Linked DNA regions of Homo sapiens. Each later gene encodes a partner of the first gene's protein in a complex. Each region holds a gene or a part of one and is shown on either strand. Other genes may lie near its edges. A codon is read from its position in the direction of its gene.

What was found.
Region 2: the proteins of SIRT3 (region 1) and ACSS1 are in contact, whole or in part, in a crystal structure (PDB 3GLT), measured with the Homo sapiens proteins. Residues at the interface, in NP_036371.1 of Homo sapiens: Gly145, Ala146, Gly147, Thr150, Pro151, Asp156, Phe157, Arg158, Ser159 (codon at 7,603), Glu177 (codon at 7,549), Phe180 (codon at 7,540), Gln228 (codon at 7,396), Asn229 (codon at 7,393), Ile230 (codon at 7,390), His248 (codon at 4,906), Ile291, Val292, Phe293, Phe294, Gly295, Glu296, Pro297, Leu298, Gly319, Thr320, Ser321, Leu322, Glu323, Val324, Glu325; in NP_115890.2 of Homo sapiens: Ser640, Gly641, Lys642, Val643, Met644, Arg645.

The regions. Positions count from the first base shown.
Region 1 is NC_000011.10:225,612-233,960, forward strand, and holds part of SIRT3 (NAD-dependent protein deacetylase sirtuin-3, mitochondrial), read right to left. Parts: exon of another isoform or gene 8,129-8,349; intron 7,924-8,128; coding exon 7,732-7,923; intron 7,605-7,731; coding exon 7,372-7,604; intron 5,096-7,371; exon of another isoform or gene 4,942-5,095; coding exon 4,841-4,941; intron 471-4,840; exon of another isoform or gene 62-470; intron 1-61.
Region 2 is NC_000020.11:25,019,418-25,027,766, forward strand, and holds part of ACSS1 (acetyl-coenzyme A synthetase 2-like, mitochondrial isoform 1 precursor), read right to left. Parts: intron 4,225-8,349; coding exon 4,049-4,224; intron 3,676-4,048; coding exon 3,523-3,675; intron 2,120-3,522; coding exon 1,972-2,119; intron 731-1,971; coding exon 593-730; intron 1-592. UniProt on the Homo sapiens protein: Catalyzes the synthesis of acetyl-CoA from short-chain fatty acids. Acetate is the preferred substrate. Can also utilize propionate with a much lower affinity. Provides acetyl-CoA that is utilized mainly for oxidation under ketogenic conditions.

The DNA.
Region 1 (8,349 bases):
GGAAGGACCTTATAACAGAATACAATATTAGTAAACTGGAAAAAAGACCAGAAGAAATTACCCAGAATGCAGCACAAGAAGCAGCAATTACAGGACAGAAGAGTGATCAGGAACAGCAGGAGAGAGAAGGTCTAATGTATGTTCAATCAGAGGTCCCTAAAGAGAGGGGCCAGATAGTGGGCTAGGGGCAACTCATATCCGAAGAGATAACGGCAGAGTATGATCCAGCAACCATGAAAGACGCCAACCCGCAGATTCAGGATCTCAAGCAAGTGAGGGCTACTGAGCCAGCCTGAGGGTGCCCACAGGAAAAACATGAGTCACGGCACATCTGTGCTTGTTTCTGTCCCAAGAGGTTCTCAGGAGGTTTAGTAATTACATGTGGTCCTTCAAAGAGGGAGGGTGGCTGTGAGGTGAGTGGTTACGTACTTGTGAGACTTCAGTAAGTGCCCAGTAAATGTACATTTTACCTAAGATAGAAGGAAACAGAGGAAGAGAACTAAGCAGACCTCTCAGGGAAGGGTGAAGGAACCATTAATCTCATCTTGTCTTTAATCTGTATCTGGGAAGATAAACCAGTAATCCACATTAGCAGTGTAGAGTCTTTGAAAAGGGCTGGTTTCTGTTTAGCCCTTAGTGAAGAAGCCTAATGGTGGCTGGGGAGGGAGGGGTACAGTGAGGCGCGTCTGACCTCCTCTCCTGCTACGGCCAGGAACTCAAGCTTCCAAGGTTTCTCTGGGGTTCCCTTGACCAAGGGGAGGGCTCCATTCAGTTGGTTGCAGGGCTTAGAATTTTATTTTATATTTTATTTTTTTGAGATGGCATCTCGCTCTGTCACCCAGGCTGGAGTGCAGTGGCATGATCTCGGTTCACTACAACTTCTGCCTCCTGGGTTCCAGCAATTCTCCTGCCTCAGCCTCCCGAGTAGCTGGGATTACAGATGGGTGCCACCACAAATGGCTCATCTTTGTATTTTTAGTAGAGACGGGGTTTCACCATGTTGGCCAGGCTGGTCTCAAACTCCTAACTCAGGTGATCCACCCGCCTCAGCTTCCCAAAGTACTGGGATTACAGGCAGGAGCCACCGCGCCCAGCCTAGAATTTTATTTTATTTTTCTTAAGGAAGGCCTACAATTATTATTATTATTTTTTTTTTTTTGAGATGGAGTTTCGCTCTTGTTTCCCAGGCTGGAGTGCAATGGCCTAATCTCAGCTCACCGCAACCTCCGCCTCCCTGGTTCAAGCAATTCGCCTGCCTCAGCCTCCCGAGTATCTGAGATTATAGGCATGCACCATCACGCCCGGCTAATTTTGTATTTTTAGTAGATATGGGGTTTCTCCATGTTGGTCAGGCTGGTCTCAAACTCCTGACCTCAGGCGATCCACCCACCCGGCCTCCCAAAGTACTGGGATTACGGGCGTGAGCCACCATGACCAACTGGCCTACAAATTTTAAGCAGAAGAAATAAAAGAAAATTCATATGGAAAACCACAGTGGAGAAACCGCAAAACTCCAAAGACAAAAGTCTTAAAAAACAGGCAGAGAGGCCAGACACGGTGGCTCATGCCTGTCATCCCAGCACTTTGGGAGGCCGAGGCGGGTGGATCATGAGGTCAGGAGTTCGACACCAGCCTCACCAACATAGTGAAACCCCATCTCTACTAAAAATACAAAAATTAGCTGGGCATGGTGGCGCATGCCTGCAATCCCAGCTACTCAGGAGGATGAGGCAAGAGAATCGCTTGAACCTGAGAGGGGGAGGTTGCAATGAGCTGAGATCATACCACTGCACTCCAGCCTGGGCAACAGAGCAAGACTCTATCTCAAAAAAACAAAAAATCCAAACAACAACAACAAAAATAAAACAGGCAGAGAACAGATAGCAACAGTTTCAGAAATTTATATGAAAAGCCAAAAGATTCAGACCAGCCAACACAGTACTGAAGGAGAAGAACAAAGGTGGGGAATTAACATCAACCTGTTGCCCAAATTATCTATTTTATTCTCTTATTTATTTATTTATTTTGTTTTGAGATGGAGTCTCACTCTGTCACCCAGGCTGGAGTGCAGTGGTGCGATCTCAGCTCACAGCAACCTCCCCTCCCAGGTTCAAGCAATTCTTCTGCCTCAGCCTCCTGAGTAGCTGGGATTACAGGTGCACCACCACACCTGGCTAATTTTTGTATTTTTAGTAGAGATGGGATTTCACCATTTTGGCAGGCTGCTCTCAAGCTTCCCACCTCAGGTGACCCGCCTGTCTAGGCCTCCCAAAGTGCTGGAATTACAGGCGTGAGCCACTGTGCCCAGTCCCAAATAATCTCTTTTAAATGCAAATCCCTTCACATCATTTTCCTGCCTAAAAATCCTCCAATGCCTCCCATGATCGTCAGGATACAGTTCAAACCCTAACAGAGCAAGCAGGCCTCCCACACTCCAGGTCTCTGCTGCCAGAAACAGACTCTTACATCCAGACGGCCTCATCTCAAAGGTGCTTCCCAGCCTACTCTGTTCCTACAGCTGAGTCAGTGTAGTGTCCAGTACATATTTATAGTAAAATTCGTATGGCACCCAGTTGTAACTGTTGGATGACTCCACCTTATTTTAATTTCTATTCACATCCACAGAACCCAGCAAAGGGCCTGGCACTGAGGAGACTAAACTATTTGTTGAATAAATTGGTCATTCAATGAATGAGTTGACCAAAACAATAATACGTATATATCAAGTTTCTACTATGTGCTGGACTCACACTTCCTAATTTCAAAACTTACTACAAAGCTACAGTAACCAAAACATTATAGTGCAGGCACAAGGATATACAGATAACAATGGAATAGAATTGAGACTCTAGAAATAACCCATACACCTATGGCCAACTGATTTTCAACAACAATGCCAAGACCACAGTTTTTTTAAACAAATGGTGCTGGAACAATTACATATCCACATAAAAGAAAATGAAGCTGGATCCCTACCTTACAGCGCACACAAAAATTAACTCAAAATGGATCAAAGAACTAAATGTAAAAGCTTTAAACTATAAAACTCTTATAAGAAAACAGGAGTAAAACAATACCATTTCTCAGATATGATTCCAAAAGAGTGAGAAAATAAATAGACAAACTAGATTTCATCAAAATCAAAACTTCTATGCATCAAAAGACATCAACAAAGTAAAAAAGACAACCTACAGAATGACAGAAAATATTTGCAAATCATGTCTCTGATAAGGATCTAGCTTCCAGAATATATAAAGGACTCTCTTAACAATAAAAAAGACAACACAATTAAACAATGCGCAAAGGACTTCAATCTCCAAAGATATACAAATGGCCAAAAAGCACATGGAAAGATGTTTGATATCATGAATCATTAGGAAAATGCCAATCAGTGCTACAGTGGGTTACCACCTCCCACCCACTGGGATAGCTGTAATTAAAAAATGGAAAGTAAGTGTTGGGATGTGGAAAAGATGAAACCCTTGCCCACTGTTGGTGGAATGTAAAATGGTCCAGCTTCTGCAGATAACAGTATATTCGTTCCTCAAAAAGTTAAAACGGGCCGGGCGCAGTGGCTCTCGCCTGTAATCCCACACTTTGGGAGAAAGAGGCAGGCGGATCACGAGGTCAAGAGATCGAGACATCCTGGCCAACATGGTGAAACTACTCTACTAAATACAAAAATTAGCCGGGCGTGGTGGTGTGTGCCTGTAGTCCCAGCTACTCAGGAAGCTGAGGCAGGAGAATCGCTTGAACCCAGGAGGCGGATGGTACAGTGAGCCGAGATTGCGCCACTGCACTCCAGCCTGGTGATAAGAGCTAGACTCCGTCTCAAAACAAACAAACAAAAAAGTTAAACATGGGCAGGGCATGGTGGCTCACGCCTGTAATCTTAGCACTTTGGGAGGCCGAGGCGGGTGAACCACCTGAGGTCAGGAATGCAAGAGCAGCCTGGCCAACATGGTGAAACCCCATCTCTACTAGAAATACAAAAAACATTAGCTGGGCATGGTGGCAGGCACCTGTAATCCCAGCTTCTCAGGAGGCTGAGGCAGGAGAATCGCTTGAACCCGGGAGGCAGAGGTTGTATTGAGCCGAAATCGCGCCATTGCACTCCAGCCTGGGTGACAGTGTAAGACTGTGTCTCAAAAAATAAATAAATAAATATAGCTAAACGTGGAGTTACCCAGCAATACTTGTAGGTATCATACTCAAAAGAATAAAAAACAAGGACTCTCAAACGAATACTTGCATATGCTCCACAGCAGAACTATACACAAGAGCAGAAAGGTGGGACAACCCAAACACCCATCCATGTACAAACAAACCAACTGTGGTGCATACATCAGTGGAACATTTAGCCATGAAACAGGATGAAATACTAACACAAGCTACAAGGCGAAGGAGCGAGAAACATTTTCAGGAAATAAGCTCGGCACAAAAGGCCATCTGATTGCCGGGCGTGGTGGCTCACGCCTGTAATCCCAGCTACTTAGGAGGCTGAGGCAGAAGAATTCCTTGAATCCGGGAGACGGAGGTTGCAGTGAGCCGAGATCGCCCACTGCACTCCAGCCTGGGCGACAGAGTGAGACTCAATCTCAAAAAAAAAAAAAAAAAGTGGGCAGCTGGAATTGGCTGAAGGGAGATTCATTTTCCCTACATATTTCTATATTGTCTTAAATTTTTTTACAAGCATGTATTGATTTTCTAATTTACAAATAAAATGTTTCACACTATTATTGTTCAACTGTCCTTTCGAGACAATGCTTATAAAATACCACTTTTCCAGATCACCCCAACAGCAAACTGCAGAAGGACAACCAACAGCAGGATAACTCACCCGAATGTCCTCCCCTGGGAAGGGTCTTTGGCAGACTGTGCAGGTGGCAGAGGCAAAGGTTCCATGAGCTTCAACCAGCTTTGAGGCAGGGATGCCCGACACTGAAATTCAAGCCAAAGCGAAGTGTTGCTGCCGCCTCCGAGATGAGCACGCAAGGCCAAGAGCACAACTTCTGGGCTTGGCAGGACTCCTGGAAGGAGGCACAGCCCCTTGGGGTTGTGATGTCCTCAAGCCTGGTTTTCATGCCCGTATCACCTACATGCGCCATCAACCAGAATAAGGCAGGGGAGCAAAGGGGCACCTAGCTGGAGCCAAATCACGGTTAAAACAAAGCCTGTCAAAACTCAGTACGAAAAACCATTTGATAAAAGCTCAAATAAAATTATATCCAGCCGGGCACAGTGGCCCACACCTGTAATCCCAGCACTTTGGGAGGCCGAGGTGGGCAGATCATTTGAGGCTAGGAGTTCAAGACCGGCCTGGCCATCATGGTGAAACCGTACCTCTACTAAAAATACAAAAATTAGCCAGATGTGGTGGCAGGCACCTGTAGTGCCAGCTACTCGGGGAGGCTGAGACAGGAGAATCGCTTGAACCCGGGAGGTGGAAGTTGCAGTGAGCTGAGGTCGTGCCACCGCACTCCAGTTTGGGTAAGAGAGCGAGATTCTGTCTCAAAAAAAAAAAAAAAAATTACACCTAATACCAGGCTGGGTGCAGTGGCTCATGCCTGTAATCCCAGTGCTTTGGAAGGCCAAGGCAGGAGGATCACTTGAGGCCAGGAGTTTGAGACCAGCCTCAGCAACATAGTGAGACTTGTCTTAAAAAATTTTTTTAATTAGCCAGGCATGGTAGTGCATGCCCGTAGTCCCAGCTATTCCAGAGGCTGAGGCAAAAGGATCACTTCGGCCCAAGAGTTCAGGCTATAGTGAGCTATGATCATGCCACTGCACTCTAGCCTGGGCAACAGAGCCAAGACCCTGTCTCAAAAATTTATATCTAATATCCAGGAACATATCTTCTATTCTACAGATACCAAGTTAAAATGAGGATATAAATATCATAAATTCCAAAAGAATTGCTTGGTAGAAACAGACAAAAAGTGACTTCTTATGAAAGTTGTGTTAGTATTAACTGGTTCTGAAAGGCTGCGGTGGCACAGCCAGGGTCCCAGCTGCAGGAGGCTTCCCAAGTCCCTGTCGCTGCCCTAACTCAGCAGTGCTGAATCTCACAGCCAGGAGCTCCCACCTTCCCACAAGGCCTGCCCTGCTGCACCTCTGGGAGAAGAGCCCACCAACATGGGGCATCCGCTGCTGCCTCTGTGGTTCCAAGTCAGGGGATCCTTCTGGCAAGGAAACACATTCCTGGAGCCAAGGTGCCACCTCTTTTTAACTGACAACACATCAGCAGTCTCTCCGGGAGCCTGGCTCCCGGAGAGCTGACTGTCCCAGCACCTGTCTGCATCACTGCACGTAAGGAAAAGGCCCCACCAAGTGCTTCCGTTAGGTGCACGGCCAGAAGTTGGCACAACCTGTGAATCGCTGGTTTGGGCACCATATGGATACGGTCAAGAAATCACCACAGACTAAGTGTGACCATATTAAGGAATTACTAGTGATTCTTCAGTGTGAATCACTATCAGAGTTGTTTTTATTTTTTAATTATTTTTATTTTTATTTATTTTTTTGAGACAGAATCTCCCTCTGTCGCCCAGGCTGGAGTGAAGTGGCACGATCTCGGCTCACTGCAACCTCCGCCTGCTGGGTTCAAGAGATTCTCCTGTCTCAGCCTCCCGAGTACCTGGGATTACAGGCACACACCACCACGCCTGGCTAATTTTTTGTATTTTTAGTAGAGACGGGGTTTTGCCACGTTGGCCAGGCTGGTCTCGAACTCCCGACCTCAGGTGATCTACCTGCCTCGGCCTCCCAAAATGCTGGGATTACAGGTGTGATCCCACACCTGTAATCCGGCACCCGGCCGGAGTTGTTTTTAAAGTATTCTCTAGAGCTATCCATTCATGTGTTTATAGATTATTTCTAGATTAAATTCATGATGTGAGAGATTTGCTTCAAAATAATCTGGGGATTTGGAAGAAGGTGGTGAGGACGCAGGAAGAACTGGCTGTGTGCTGGTGATGAGGACAGGACGGTTCGTTACATTGCTCTCTTTGTGTGTGCTCAAAAAAATTCCATAATACACTTCTTAAAAGAGAGAAGAAAAAAAGAGATCATCACACCAGATTGGCAAAACAATGTCAACTTCTGCCCAAAATACACAGCTCTGCAGGTATGCAGGAGAACAAGCAGTGGCCTTTAAACACCCAGAGGACATTTTCCTTGGGAACAAAGCCCTAACTAGTTGGCTCAAAAAAAGTCCCAAGGAAGAAGCATAAGCGATAGGTTTTGGCCGTCCCCAGAAACAGGCACCCGAGCATCCCCTGTGAGAAACAGGCACCCGAGCCTCCCTGGGAGAAACAGGCACCCGAGCCTCCGTGGGAGAAAAAGAATGTGTGCGACTCACAGAGGGCTCACCTCTCTCAAGCCCATCGATGTTCTGCGTGTAGAGCCGCAGAAGCAGCCCCTTGTCATGAAGCAGCCGGAGAAAGTAGTGAGTGACGTTGGGCTTGTAGTTTCCAGGGTACAGCTCCTTGGCCAAAGTGAAAAAGGGCTTGGGGTTGTGAAAGAAGAATGGGAGTTCAAAAATGGCCTCGGGGTACGGGAGATCGTACTGCTGGAGGTTGCTGTACAGGCCACTCCCCGGCGATCTGCAGGGAGAGAAGAAAGGCTCTGAGGCCTTTGGAAGAGGACAGGGAAGTGGAATAAACTGGGCAGTGGGGAGGGCAGGAGTCAGGGGAGGGGAGCGCAGAAGGCAGGTGGGACTGTGGGCAGTACCTGAAGTCTGGAATGCCACTGGGTGTGCTGATGCCGGCCCCCACCATGACCACCACCCTCTGGCAGGCTCTGGCCCGAATCAGCTCAGCTACATCCTGCAGGGAAAGCTTCCCCTTGTCACTGCTGCCTCCACTTCCAACAACACTTGAAGCACCCACAGAAAAAGATATGGACCTTCTTCCACCTTTAATACTGACAGAAAAAAACACAGCAGCAAAGGAAACAGATAGCAACCAATCTCAGGATAGCAAGAACGAGCATGGCTCTGCCCTCTGCACCACCGCCACCCTCGAGAATGAGCATGTGTGTCTCCCCAGGCCTCTCAAAATAATCACCTTTCTTAGACGACTATTGGGGTACAACAAAAAGCAGTCATAAATCAGAAATCAAGACTTACTTGGGAGCAAAAAATTCAGGTTAATGGGAACTGTGCTCATTTCATAATTCAGTACACTCAGTAGGCACTCAACTCTGACTGACTGCAAACCTCCAAAGGGGTCTCCTAATGAAAACTGGTTAAGGAGTCAAGAAGCAAAGAGGGAAAACCCTGGTTCTAAAACCATCTCACCACCTATTAAGCGCCCCACTTCACACAGCATTTCAGACATCTATTCACTT
Region 2 (8,349 bases), on another chromosome or scaffold:
GTAACAGCAGGGCAAAAGTGCAGGATGGTATCCACTCCACAGACTTGGAGACAATCAAAAGGTCCAACTATGGGGCAGTGTTTAGCAAACTGTAGTTATACTATTATTACTATTATTTAGACGACTGAGTCTCACTCTGTCACCAGGCTGGAGCGCAGTGGTGCAATCCTAGTTCACTGCAGCCTGAAACTCCTGGGCTCAAGCAATCCTCCCACCTCAGCCTTTGCCACCACACCCAGCTAAGTTATACAGTTAAATCCCATGCAGCCACTAAAGAACTGACCTGACCCTTAACTTATTGAGTGGGTAAGTATTCCTAATGAAGATTAAGCTACAGAAATTGGGCACAGAAACAACGGCACAGAAAATGTCTGGAACGTTGTTCCCCAGACAGGTAACTGCTGCCAGCTCTGGGGAGGAGCTTACAGGTGGGAAGAGGTGCTGGTGCTTTCTACCAGATCCGGTCTGGCATTGCGTGAATTCACACATACAAAGCCGGGCAGCTTCATGACTGAAGTCCTGCTGAAGCCCGTATTGGCTCTGAGGGTCTAGGGCAAGCACAACCTCTCCTGCTGCAGGGCAGGCCGCTCACCTGACCCCAGGGTCCGCAGGGAGGAGCGATCATACTTCTTCACCCAGGCATCACCGTATTTCAGCAACAGCCGGACAGCCGTTGGGGCGCCATAGAACTGATTGATCTTCAACCTCTCTACTGTCTCCCAGTACCGACCTACAGAAAGGCCGAAATTCACTGTCAGCAGGAGAGCTGACATGGTTTACTTTAAACTCAGAGATCAGCCAAGACTTCCTGAGTGCTGGGCATGTGCAGACGCGCATATGTCCATATGAAAGGGATCCCCCCAACCCCCCACCCCCGCCAGTGAAAGATGGAAAGAAGCCCCATGGGACAGGTCCCCAATGGCCGCTCTCCTCCAAGCACTCCCCAGATCCATGGGCGGCACATTCAGGAACAGTCTTCACCAGGCTTAGGGTGATGGCCTAGTTCAAGGTGATACTACGTGGATTTAATAACCCATGGAGCATTAACACAGAGCTTTCACTCGATCACACTCACATGGGCTCTAAAGTGGTGACTGGTGCTTCCCCTGGTGACAGTACAGCTGCCACTGCGTGTGTCCCAGGGAGCAGGGCCATGTGCCCGGCATGCACACCCCTGGTTCCTGTAAACCCACTACCCACACCATCCCCTCCACATGGAACACTGAGCTTCTAAGGGCTGAAGTGGTGGCCTGAGACAGCACCTGGGCCATGGCCCTTAATCCCTGGTCTTGCCCCTACAACTTCTTCCTTGAGCACACCCAGCCCCCAAAGGCAGGGATGGAGCACTGGGAGGTGATAACACAGTCCATGCACAGTTGTCAGTGCCATGGAACACTGGAGCAGCAGCCTTTGGGCAGAGCCACCATGATCTGCTTACATTAAAGAAAATATTTGAAGACACTGTGCTGTGTGGGAGGACGATGCCCAAGGGAGCCAGTCATCACCTTGTCTTCAAAGTGATCTCAATTTAATGGAGATGGTTCTAGGCCATGCCTAACATGGTTTGAGGGACAGCCCTGAAGGCTCAGGGGCAGGGCTGGGGACACAGAAGTGGCGGGCAGCTGGCCCTGGCTTTGAGAAAGGGCTGGATCTGGGCAAGCAGCCTAGAGGTGAGAAGGATGCCAAAGCGATGGCCTGAGGCCGGCAGTTTAAGTCAGAGGGCAGGAGTGCAGGAGCAGGGGCCTTGAGATGTCCTCCAGCACCAAGTCAGACTCCCTGCTGCTGCCTGTCAGATCTTTCTGAAGACCTGGGGCCTGGCCCCACCGGGCATTTCGACAGCAGGACCTGGAGAGCCACACCCTCACCAGAACCCAGGCGTCCCCCTTCCATGAACCTCTCCACAAGCCTCGAGCCTCAGGCTCTCTCCCCTGACACCAGCATGGGGTCCCAAACAGGGTTCACCATCCTTACCAGCATTGGGATAAACTGGGGTGCTCTCAAAAAGGACGCTGGTGGCACCATTGCAGAGAGGCCCATACACCACGTAGCTGTGTCCTGTAATCCAACCGATGTCGGCCACACAGCCAAAGATGTCACCTGGCTGGTGGTCAAACACAAGCTGCAGAGACAGGAAAGGAGCATCAGGAGCTTGTCCCCCCACTCCACCATGTTCACACCAGGTCACTAGGAAATAGGCATGCATAGGCTGCAGTCCATAGCTGTGAGAGGCAGCTGGCTCCTCAAATGGCCTCCAGCAGCAGGACAGGTGGGCACACTGCAGAGTCCGTCTAGTTGTACGTTTAACACATGGACACCTTTTTGCATTACCTTATGCCACGATTTTTTAAACCCCTTAAGAACTACAAAAAATAAAAGCAAAAAAGGCCAAGAATGGCATCAAGCATCATCAGCTTCGAGGAGCATGAGAGGACAGACATCCGAATCCCCTTTATTCTTCCACAGCAACTGAGTGGAGCCTGATCCCATCTCAGGATCTAACTGCCCACGTGCAGGAAACACAGAGGCAGAGGGACAACAGGCACAACCCAGACCAAAGGACACCAGAGAAAAATGGCTGGATGTGACTATGGCCAAGTGTAAGGAAATGGGGGAGCATAGGCTTAAAAAGACTTAAAACACATATCAACAATATTTTAGGCCGGACACGGTGGCTCACACCTGTAATTCCAGCACTTGGAGAGGCCAAGGCGGGCAGATCACTTGAGGTCAGAAGTTCAAGACCAGCCTGACCAACATGGCAAAACCCTGTCTCTACTAAAAATACAAAAAAAAATTAGCAGGGTGTGGTGGCAGGTGCCTGTAATCCCAGCTACTCAGAAAGCTGAGACAGGAGAGTCACTTGAACCCAGGAGGCAAAGGTTGCAGTGATCTGAGATCACACCACTGCACTCTAACCTGGACAACAGAGTGAGACTCCATGAAAAAACAAAACAAAACAAAACAAAACAAAACAAAAGAAAAAACAATATTTTAATTGGCAACAGTAAGCTACAGTGCCCACGGATGCTCATATGGGTCACAAAACTATCAAAATAAAAACAGGGCAGGCGCACAAGACACATCAAGACATGCTGGACGGGGCTGTGGCCATATGGGCCTGGAAGGGGCTTCTGAGAAACCGGTGGCCTTCCACTTCTTGATCAAAGTGGCATTTGCCTTATAATAATTCATTAAGCCATGCATTTAATTTGGGTGGTTTTCTCTATCTGTTCTAAAAAGAGTTTTTAAAAATCTTTGGGCGAATGGCCCTTAGTGTCCTGCTGCCGCGTTACATGATCAGATTATCTGGGAGTTTCCAGACAGTGCAGTGGGGGCTTGAGGCAGCCAGGGCCCTGAGGAGCTGTAGGGTGGGAGGACTCGAGGGGGCCCTGCCCCGAATAGGCCAGGAAGAAACACTGACCTCTCACACCTACAGGCCTCGCTCTGCAGCAGGAGGACTTCCAGCCCTGCCCCTGCCTGGATCCCTGCCAAGGGCCCAGCACCGCCCGCACAGGCCTGTACCTTGTGAGTCAGGGCGGCATAGAGCAGGTAGCCTGCCTGGGTATGGACGATGCCCTTGGGCATTCCGGTGCTCCCTGAGGTGTACAGCATGAAGAGCATGTCCTCACTGCCCATGCTCTCTGGGGCGCAAACAGGGTCCTCCTTGGCCATTTCCTGGCAGGGAGAAGAAACAAACAGCCCACCGAGGGCACTCAGCCTCTCTGAGAGCAGCACTCCCCCTCCGCAGCAGGACTCCACACACAGGATTCAGAATTCACCTGCTCTGACCTGTCCAAGTTCAATTCCAAATGTGGAAAGGACACAAAACAAAAGCGTGGGTGCAAGCATTTGTGTTACAGTAAGTGTTCCAACATGCTTGTCGTATAGGAGTTTTATCTTCCCAGTCAGGACTCAAGCTCACCAAATACCACAGAGGAACCCTGGGCACCTCTAGGGAACCCAAATTGAGAACCACAACCCGAGAAGCCTCAGAGCCAGCTAACTTGATATGACCTCGCCTCAAACTGTGCAAAGCGAGGTAACCCACCTGCTCCAGCGGGACGTCCAGATCCCCCATGTGGACCTTGTTGTCTGTCCTGTGAGCCACCAGGACATGCTGCACGGTGGGGCAGTGCTTCACAGCCTCATCCACTATTTTCTTCAGCTCCACCACGCGCCCACCCCGGAGTCCTTGGTTGAAGGTGATAACCACCTTGCACTTGGCTAACAGAGACAACACAGACATTTCTGATCAGTCTCCTCCCGACTTTAACCCTCATAGCTCTGACTCACATAGGACATCCAGGCCTAGGAGTGTGAGAAACTCAGTCCAATCTTGAGTAAAAGACTCAATGGAAAAAGTGAGGGGCTGCCTGCTCTCCAGCCTTTGTGTGCCATGAAGAAGCACCAGGCCTTTGTCCAGTTCTGAGGCTGAGGGGAAGGAACCAGAGATAAATTACTTTGAAGCTCAGCTCTTCCTCCTTGAGTCAGCAGCATAAAGACAATTTCCCAACCAGACTTCCACCTTTCTCTCCTGTCTGCCCAGGAGCAAACCCCAGGAAAGAGGCCATCATGCCACCTGCAGCAATCAAGGTGACAGAGAAATACCGAGAGGCAGAGAACAAGAAAGCTGGACAACCAGAGGCCAAGCCCAAAGGTGTCCCATGTGGCCAGGCCCTGTCTAGAGTGACTTGTGTGGGCCAAGAGCCTTCACTGTCCAGAGATCAGAAACCACACCCCAGTGGATGACTGGGAGCTGCCTGCCCACCTTACCTTCAGGAGAAGGCCCTCCTGATCCCACACCTGCTCTTCAATGACCAATGTTGCTCAGCCAGGCCCAGGGGGAAGCCAGGAGGACCCTAGCTTCCATGGCTAACCTAGGGGTAGGCCCAGAGCAGAGAAGAGGGGTGCACGCACAGTGGGCCTCAAGACCCCAGGAAAAGGAGGTGTCCTCCACGCTGTGCCCCAGTGCGGGATGACCCAGAGGGATCACAGCTGCGGGGGGTTACTACACAGCCCCTCAGGAAGAGCCTGGGACAAATGCCCAGCTGTGACCCTGACTGGCAGGGCCTCACCCACATCCCTTGGGCCTTTCAGTCATTCTGCACCAAAGGCCTCTTGCAGAGCTATGGGCAGAAGTGCTGGGGAACCCTCGACCAATGGCTCTCCATAATTGGGGTACAAATCCTGCAACTCCCTACCCTTTGCATGGAGCCATTTGAGGCATGTGTGCCACATTCCCGTCCAGAGCCACCACTGCCCTACCACACTTCCAAGACAGACTCTGGCCTCAATGTCCCCTCTGGGAGAGTCCTACCTAAATAAATCTGAAAGCACTTTTGCACAACAGGCCCACCCTTTCTCCTCCTAAGAGCCCTGGAGATGTCATGGCCATGAGGGTTCCCTGAGAATTTTCCAGCACACACAGCACCATCCGGGGGTCAGAGAGATACCCTAGACCTGCCCAGATGCAGCCACCCCTGCATCTGGCACCAAGAGCCGTGGCTACACACACTCTTTGGCCTTCAAGCCTCAGCGATAGCTCACCTGGGGAAACCAAGTCAGTTGGGTGGAGCCTATCAGAGACTTTCCAGACCTACATCCCCAAGCAGGGGTTGGTCCAGGTAAGCCCCCTATGGGCGAGGAAGGGAGATGGACCAGCAGGAAGGAATGAACCTTTCTCAAGGGGACGGGAGACAAAGAAAGCTCATGGGGGTCAGAAGCTCTCACGATACAATGACCCCAGCCCATGCAACATGCTGAAATCACACTACACAGCAGGCAGTTCCTTCCCCACCTCCCAAGGCGCACACCTCACTCCTGACTCGCACCTGTCCAGGGCCTCCCTGCCCAGTAGGCTCTCCAGGAGGTCCTCTAGGAAGTACCCAGGAGCTTCTGAGCACCATGAGCATGTCTGGCCCACTGGCGCCCTCCAAGGCTGGGCCACAGCATGGGTGCTGGCAGGAACCACATGCCACTCTGGGAGGATTCAATTTTCTCTCCCTGGTTTTGAGCAGGTACCAGCATCTGCGTTCATTTTCTGCTGCTTCCATAACAAATGACCACAAACTTAGTGGCTCAGAACACTCATTTTTAGCTCAGAGTTCTGTCGTCTGGACAGGCTTGGTGGGGTTCTCTGTTAGAGTCTCACAAGGCCAAAGTCAAGGACAGGGCTGGCTCCTATGTGGTGGCTCTGGGGGAGTATCCACCTCCAGGCCATTTCAGTGGTTGGCAGAACTCAGTTCCACGCGACTGAGGGATTAAGGTCGCCTTTTCCTTGCTGACTGTCAGCCAGGGGTCATTCTCAGCGACTACAGCCACCACCTGCCCTGGTTCGTGGCCCTGTTTATCTTCAAAGCCAGCAACGGCGGGTAAAGTTGCTTTGAATCTCTCTGACCTCCCCTTCTGCTTCACTTCCTCTGCCTCTAGTTGGAGCAAGTTCTGTGCATTAAGGATGTGGGATTAGATGGAGCCCACCTGGATATCCTATTGCCTTATTCATATGTGCAAAGTCTTTCACCATGCAAGTGACATAGCACAGCTTCTGGGGGATTACAGTGTGGCCATCTGAGTGGGTCATTATTCTACCCCCACAGTCTCTCTCAAAGCCATTCTCCTGACCTCTACCCTCCCCTGCAACACTCTCCACTCCTCAAGCAGCCTAAAGCAAGAGGGAAGACAAATGAAGAGGGATGGTCCAACCCTGGAAGCCAGGCCAGGGGACTGAACTCTGGAACTGCACCTGCTGACTAAGGTGGCTGCCCAGACATGTGAGAGCCTAGCGGTCAGACTCACAATATACACCCACCTCCCAGTGGCCAACTGAAGATGGCTGCACATTCTTTCACCTGCTCTTATAGAGAAGCAGGATCCAGGTCTCCTCCCCTTGAATCTAGAATGGCCACGGACTGGTTCGGCCAATCTAGTAAGGCAAGAGTGATGCCAGGCCTGTGCCAGCCTGGACTGTAGGACACTGGCAGTTGCTATTTCCTTCCTCTTGGAGCCATGTGCTGCCATGTGACAAGCCTGACTGCTAAGGCTGCAAGGCTATGAGGAAGCCCAAGTCAGCCATGTGAAGAGGCCACGTGGAGAGAAAGACAGGCCCACCAGTCCCCAACCCTTCAAGTCAACCTGACTAATGTCCCAGATGTCATGGAGCAGAAAACAGCCATTCCCCTGTCCCCATCTGATTCCTGTCCCACAGACCCATGAAATAGAATACTAAAATTTATTGTTTTCAGTTTTATTAAACACTAAGTTTTGGAGTAGTTTGTGACACAGCAATAGAAAACCAAAACAGCCCCTCATTGACCCAACAGGACACAGATACCCATCTCAACAGAATCTTGTCCCCAGGAACCTGGTACCTGCAGAGCTGCACAAAAAGGCTGAAGGATATCAGGGCAGAGTCCTCTTCAGGACAGAGTCATGGCCCCTGCCCTCCCATGCTTGGTTGTTTAGGAATTCTGAGGTTCTGGGAGCTGCCCCAGCATCCAGCTACTAAATCCCCACATGATGAAGTCACCAAGAGTCAACTGCTATTGCTTGTTTCAAACAATCTCAACAGAAGCACTGGGTGACCATGGCCACACCAGCAAGAGAGAAAAGGGGCAGCTTAGCATAATGCTGAAAGCATCAACTATGGCAGCAGAATGTCTGTGTTCAACTCCTGGCTCTGTCACTTACTAGGTATGTGACCTTAGGTAAGTCACTTAAACTCTCTGTGTCTCAGTTTACCCATCTTCTTCCCTTTCTAAAGACCAGAACCAGATGACTTCACTGGTGAATTCTATGAAATATTTAAAGAATTAGCACCAATCCTTCTCAAACTCTTCCAAAAAATTGAAGAGGAGATACTTTCAAATTCATTTTATGAGGCCAGCATTACCCTGATACTAAAGCCAGACAAAGATTACTATAGAAAAGAAAACTACAGACAAATATCTCATATAAACAATGATACAAAACTCTTCCACAAAATGCTAGCAAACTGTATCCAGCAGCATATTAACAGAATATACTATGACCAATCAGGACTTACCCTAGGAAAGGAAGGGTGGTTCAACATGCAACAATTAATCACTGTAATACATCACACTACTACAATGAAGGAAAAAACACATCTCAATTGACGCAGAGCAAGCATTTGACAAAATCCAACACCCTTTGATGATCAAACACTTAAAACTAGGAATAGAAGGGAACTTAATGGATAAAGAGCATCTGAAAACCCACAGCTAACATCATATTAATGGTAAAAGACTGAAGCCTTCCCCCTAAGATCAGGAACAAAACAAGGATGCCCACTTTTCACCACTGCAATTCAACATTGTAAACAAAGTTGTTGCC